2 separate regions of the Homo sapiens genome follow, and region 2 is linked to region 1. Evidence: fine-mapped expression QTL. Tissue or cell type: blood mononuclear cells. Region 1 holds a variant in brackets; the other region holds the start of a gene. All regions are shown on one strand. Distances are from middle to middle.

Region 1 (2,679 bases):
TGCCCTGAGACCCACAGCTAGTGTGAGGATGAACAGGACTTGGCCTGCATGTGGCTGGTTCTCTGGGGTGTGTTCCCCTGGCTGGGGCACCTAGACTCCAGTGTCACGGCGAGGTTTTCCCTTGTGCTAACGGGCATCTCTACGTCTATCGCTCAGCCATGCTGGAATCAGGTGAGTGAAGGCAGAAGACCTGTAGCACCCACTTGGTCTCTACAAGCTTCGGCTTCCTCATCTACAAGCAGGAGTAACAGTGTCACTGGCACTGCTGCACGGAACTGTACACAGAAGCACAGCACTGCAGGAGGAGAACTGGCTTCCGTTCCTCACCCTGCAACTCCTCCATCAGGCAGCCTCAGGCCACTCCTCCTCCCTGGTCCTCAGTCTCTTCTATAAAGTGGGATTGTACTTGCTCTACCATCCTCACAGGGATTCTTACAAGGATCAAATAAGACAACACAAGGAAAGTAGTTTCCAAATGTACAGGAAGGCTGTATGTACTGATGTCTACTGACAGCCACAGGGGCTGAGCAAGTGGGCATAAGACACAGAAAAGCAGTGCCTCCACCTACAATGAGGGACACCCCCCAGCCCAGTCAGACAGGGGCCACATAATTGCAAAGGCCTGGAAAGAAGGTGTTGAAGTCCAGAGAAGGGAGTGAGCCCTTGGGCCAGAGCAGGCTGGGAAGGCCTCCTGGGAAGGTGGGTCTTTTCAGAAGGGTGAGCCTGGCATGAATAGGGGAGAGAATTCTGAAGAAGGGAGCAGACAGCAGAGGTCTGGAGGTGGGAATGAGAATGAACAGGAAGAACCAGGCAGGCTCATGAGCAGCGGCTTCTTGCCCTGGGGCAGGGCCGGGCAGGGGTGGGGATAGAGAGGCGATACCTCTGATCAGGACAACTCCTGGCACTACCAGAGAGCCTGTGTGAGTATGGAGGTGTCCAGCACAGCACCCCCAGGGGTGGATGCCTGCCTGGAGCCAGCTGTGGAAGGAGCTCCGGACACCCTGCCTGCTTCCTGGCTCAACCTCCTGTGATGGGGCACAAACCCCAGAGAGAGAATTCAGAGTCTGTTTGGATGGCAGAGAAATGAATAAAAGGTGTCCTTCTTGAACAAACCCAGAGGGACTGGCCCAAGCCGGGCCTTCATAGACAGACCAGCTGTCTTGGGGTAGAGGTGATTTCAGGAGGTGTCACTCATGGCCAGTCTGCTCCTGGCCACCTCAGGTCAGATGTTCCGGAGCTCCCTCCAAGTGGCAGCCCTTCCTTGACTCCCCCAGGGCAGGTGCCAGCTCCACTGGCATGATGCAGCCTCCATTGAAGGCTGAGGGTACCTGGGAAAAGCTCAAAGGGACTGAATTATCCTCAAATAGGGGCCCTTTGGAAAATAAAGCAGCCGCTAGAGGCTTATGTCAGATTTCAGGATTAGCCTGCTTGGCAAAGCAGTGACTCTTTGGAACTAATCAGCAGCTGGATTTGCTCCCAGGTGGGTGGTGTACA[C/T]GGGTGGTCAGCCACGGTGGGAGGCAGCATAGCTGCTCTTGGGACACAGGAGGCTGCAAGGCACCCCTTTTCCAAGCACCCTATTTCTGAGTCATGACTAGGACTAGCTCTCACTAGCGCAAGGTCCAGCTCTTTTCTCCTCCAGGCCCAGCTGGTGTGAGGTCAACCAGTGGGGGGTAAGGGAGCTCTAAGACCCTGGCCCCATTCCTTCTCCCTGGGTTCCTGCGGAAGACAAGACTCACCTAAACATCTAGACTAGAGGCCCTGCCCTGGTGTGGCTGCACAGCCAGAAGGAACAAAGCCTTCTTAGCCTCGACCCGCTCAGTGTACACCCCACGCGGCCTCAGGGTGGCTGAGGCTAGTGACAGAATGAACGAAGGGGTGAAAGCATGAATGAATGAATGGCTATCAGAACATTCTTTATTATGAGGAAGTCCAACTACTCCCTGGATAGTCACAGGGCAGACACAAAGAATGAATGTGGTTCCTGCTCTCAAGAAGCTAATCCCAGTGTTACGGCTCTTTTTGAATTTGTCTGAATTTAAAAAAAAGAAAAGCAGTTAATCCTTTCATTAGCAGATGTCTGCTAAAGTGAAGGTGGGGGTGCGGGACCCACACTTTTTGAGCAGGGACTCCCCAAGCGCTCTGCGGGATGCTAAGGGGCACCACAGAGTGGGGGGCCCAGGGATGAATGAGAACGTGAAGTGCCATGTGGTGCTGGCCCGCGCACTACGAGCCCTGCTTTTTGTGGCATTTCCCCAATTCATCAGCCACAGAGCCCCTTTGAAGATAGCCTTTGACCACCCCACTGTACCACGTTCTGCAGAACACAGGTTGGGAAGTAACGGATTTAGAATAAACTAGGCCAGAAAGGTCCCACGAGAGCCACCCCACTGGGACACATGGACTCCTAGACATGCTCGGCCTGGCCCTGCTGCTCCGCAGGCAGACTCTAGTATTTCATTTCCCTGTGCCTCGGTTTCCCTCTAATAAAATAACAATCCTGGTTTCTTCCAGCCCGCTGGGATGTCAGGAGCGAGGACACAGGATGAGAGTGAACAGATGCCAGGGGCCTTGGGGACATGTAAATACCAGAAGCCGTCACGGTGACTCAGGCTTGGCGGGCACTTGCAGGGCTGTCTAATAGCCCGAGGCTGCTAATGAGGGGTACAGATGACAGCCTCC
Region 2 (2,679 bases), 30 kb after region 1:
AACTGTAACCACACTTGATCATGAAAGACCAAGCAGCCTCCGACATCAGGGTTTACAAAAGGAATCATACCTTTCTAGACCTGAAGTCACGGGGAATTCCTGATTACAACTGGAAGATCAACAGTTGGCTGGGTAACACGTTCATTTATGTCATAAATTGGCATCTTAGCCTAAGACTTTGTGTAGGGAGAGCAAGGGTGAAGTGTATGAAAATATTTGAAGTAAATCACTTTACAGCGTTTTAAAGGCGGAAAGAAGTAAAAGCACGTGCCTCCCAGCCTTGCCAGGATCCACCTTGGGCTGGGTCCTCCAGGTCTCGATCAGGGCCGACCCATTCTGCATCCTCCGCCTGGACCCCTCCAAGGCTTTTGCTGTAACTTGCGCTCTCCTGAGCTGCCTCGCAAGCAGCAACGACCTCTCCCTGGTCTCTCATCAAACTCATCCTCCCAGAAACCGGGTTCCTGCCCTGTACTGTGTTCCCATGGCAACCTGAGCTTACTACCCGCTGCTGGCATCACCCCCTCTCCGCTGCAGCCCCCTGCAGGGCGAGCTTGTCTGATTCGCCTCTGTCCCCAGTGCCCAGCACCGGGCCTGGGACTCAGGGAGCTCTGAAAGGATGGGGAACTAGATTTTCGGGCTCAAAAGAGAAGAACCCAAGGCGGTAGGAAAGGAGAGCAGAGTCCCCACTGCGCCCGCCTGCACTGAACCAGTCAGTCCCAGGGCTCCCGCTGTCCTTGGCTAGTTCTCTACCCTCCAGAGGGCCTCGGTTTCCTCATCTGTAAATCGGGGTCGCCACCTCTCCTGCAGGGCGGTGCAGGGGCCCAGCCCGGATAAGCCACCGAGGGCGCTGGGGAGACCTGCACCAGGTCCCTGGCCTAGGAGGCGGCGGCCTCCCCCCGCCTCTCCGCCCGGGCGCCCCGGACTGCGAGCTGTGCGGTGTGGGGCGCGGGGGTCTGGCTCACCTGGAGGTGACGAGCACCGCCGGGGACTGCATGACGGCGGCGGGGACTCCGGGCGGGGCGCGCAGTCACGGGACCCGGCAGTGCCCGCGTCACCGCGTCCCCGCCCTGCCTCCCGCTGCCCTGGCCTGCCCCCTGGTGGCAGCGGCCGCGCAGTTCGCGCCTGTGGCCAGAGGCGGGGCGGAAGCGCGGCTGGGCGGGTCCCGCACGGTCGCCGTCGGCCTGCGCTGCTCGGAGCTTCCGGAGCACCCAGGCTGAGCCGCGCCCGCCGCAACCACCTAGAAGAAGCCCAGCCTGGCCCTGGCACACGGTGAACCTTAATCGGTGTGTCTGTTTTGCGCTAAAGTTTAGCCGTTAGAGAGACGGGACTCTGCTGTTTCCGCCGCCAGTCCCCATTACAAAACCACTCCCCCTCTGCCCCAAGACCATTTCATTCAACCGATCGGTCAACAAATATTTACCAAGCTGGGGCTCTGTCCAGGCTTCGTGGGGTCTTCTTCAAGCTGCACAGTGAACGCCACGCAGCAGCCCAGTCCCCTTGAGCTTGCTGCCTCCAGCTAGCTCGCCTATCTGGTTCCTACTGCCTGCCCGCTCCATAAATGGCAGGCACTCTCCCGACAGGGGATCTTTAGAGAGGCAGCCTCTGCTGCTTGGCAGAGCCCTGGTGGAGGCCTCCCGGGGCCGGGCCTGCCTGGGATGGCTGCACTTGGGTCCCCAGCTGGAGCAGGGCAACGGGGTCCAGGAGCCAGTTCCCCTCAGAAGGGGAACGTACAGACATGCAGACCCTAACAGACCCACTCATTTTAGATTCACCTCTCCATGGGGTGAGGAACAGAGAGATCGTATCACCTGCCAACGTAGCCCAGGGAAAGAAAAGCTGAGTCTGCAAACAGGGCCAGCAGAAGGTGCAAACTGCTGCCCCTGTTCTGTTACTCCCTCCACCCAGAGCCCCAGTGACAAAAAGAAAGAGAAGCTGGGCTTAACTATACCAGAATTCACGGCAGGGCGATGTCAGCCATGTTTCCTGAGCCTATCAACCACCGCCACCAGCATCACCAACAATATCTACCAGTTTTTACAGATTTTAGTGAAGAAATCCTACAGTAAAAGATTTTGAAAAATGACTTTCCCCAATGTATCTCTTGAATAAATACGGACATTGATATGCCTTATTATTTGTCTCAGATTTGTTTATAGGCAAGATGAGCAATCATGAATGAAGTATGACAATGAATGAAAGTTCTGAGGGAGACCCTTGAAGGCTGCAGTGAAGAGCTGGGATGATGGCGGGAACCCCTGTCTGCTCTGCTGCTCATCGGCCTGTCCGTCTGCAGGGCCGTGTTCATGGCTGCAAATGGTCCTCCGTGTTTTGTTTAAATTGGCATGCCCTACTTTAGAGAAAGGGAGTTCAGGGTCTGGACAGAAAGCAGTATAGGCTTCAGCATTCCAGGAGTCTGAGTGTAGTGCCAGGCAGTCGAGCAGTCACCATTGCACTCACATTTATCCAACAGACAGAAACACAGTGAATAAGACACTTTAGATGCCTTCAGTGGACTTCTTTGCCCTCCTACATGGGGAGTGGGTGGGGGTCTGGAAAGGCTTTCTAAAGGAGCTGAAGTCCAAGGGAAAACCTGAAGAAATATGGATAGAATAGATTAGAAGGAATGTCACGTGCAAAGCCCTAGCGACAGGATAGGAACACCAGGGAACAGGGGGAAGA

The links. PIP is the estimated chance that this variant, and not a neighbour inherited with it, causes the effect.
Region 2: HS1BP3 starts here. The variant in region 1 is fine-mapped to the expression of HS1BP3 in blood mononuclear cells (TOPMed, PIP 0.94).

The regions. Positions count from the first base shown.
Region 1 is chr2:20,620,291-20,622,969 of GRCh38, forward strand. The region is part of intron 6 of HS1BP3 (HCLS1 binding protein 3); the gene reads right to left. Among named protein-coding and RNA genes, the nearest start is that of HS1BP3-IT1, 29 kb to the left of the region's middle. The variant C/T (reference allele first, on the strand shown) is at 1,495.
Region 2 is chr2:20,650,070-20,652,748 of GRCh38, forward strand. HS1BP3 (HCLS1 binding protein 3) reads right to left here and starts at 1,029. Exons shown (of 7, transcript NM_022460.4): 1 at 963-1,029. The coding sequence starts at 994. It overlaps LOC105373466 (a long non-coding RNA gene), which reads left to right and starts at 1,213. Exons shown (of 2, transcript XR_001739320.2): 1 at 1,213-1,283; 2 at 1,906-2,131. RefSeq lists enhancers at 376-455, 476-625, 710-1,447 and a silencer at 706-1,295.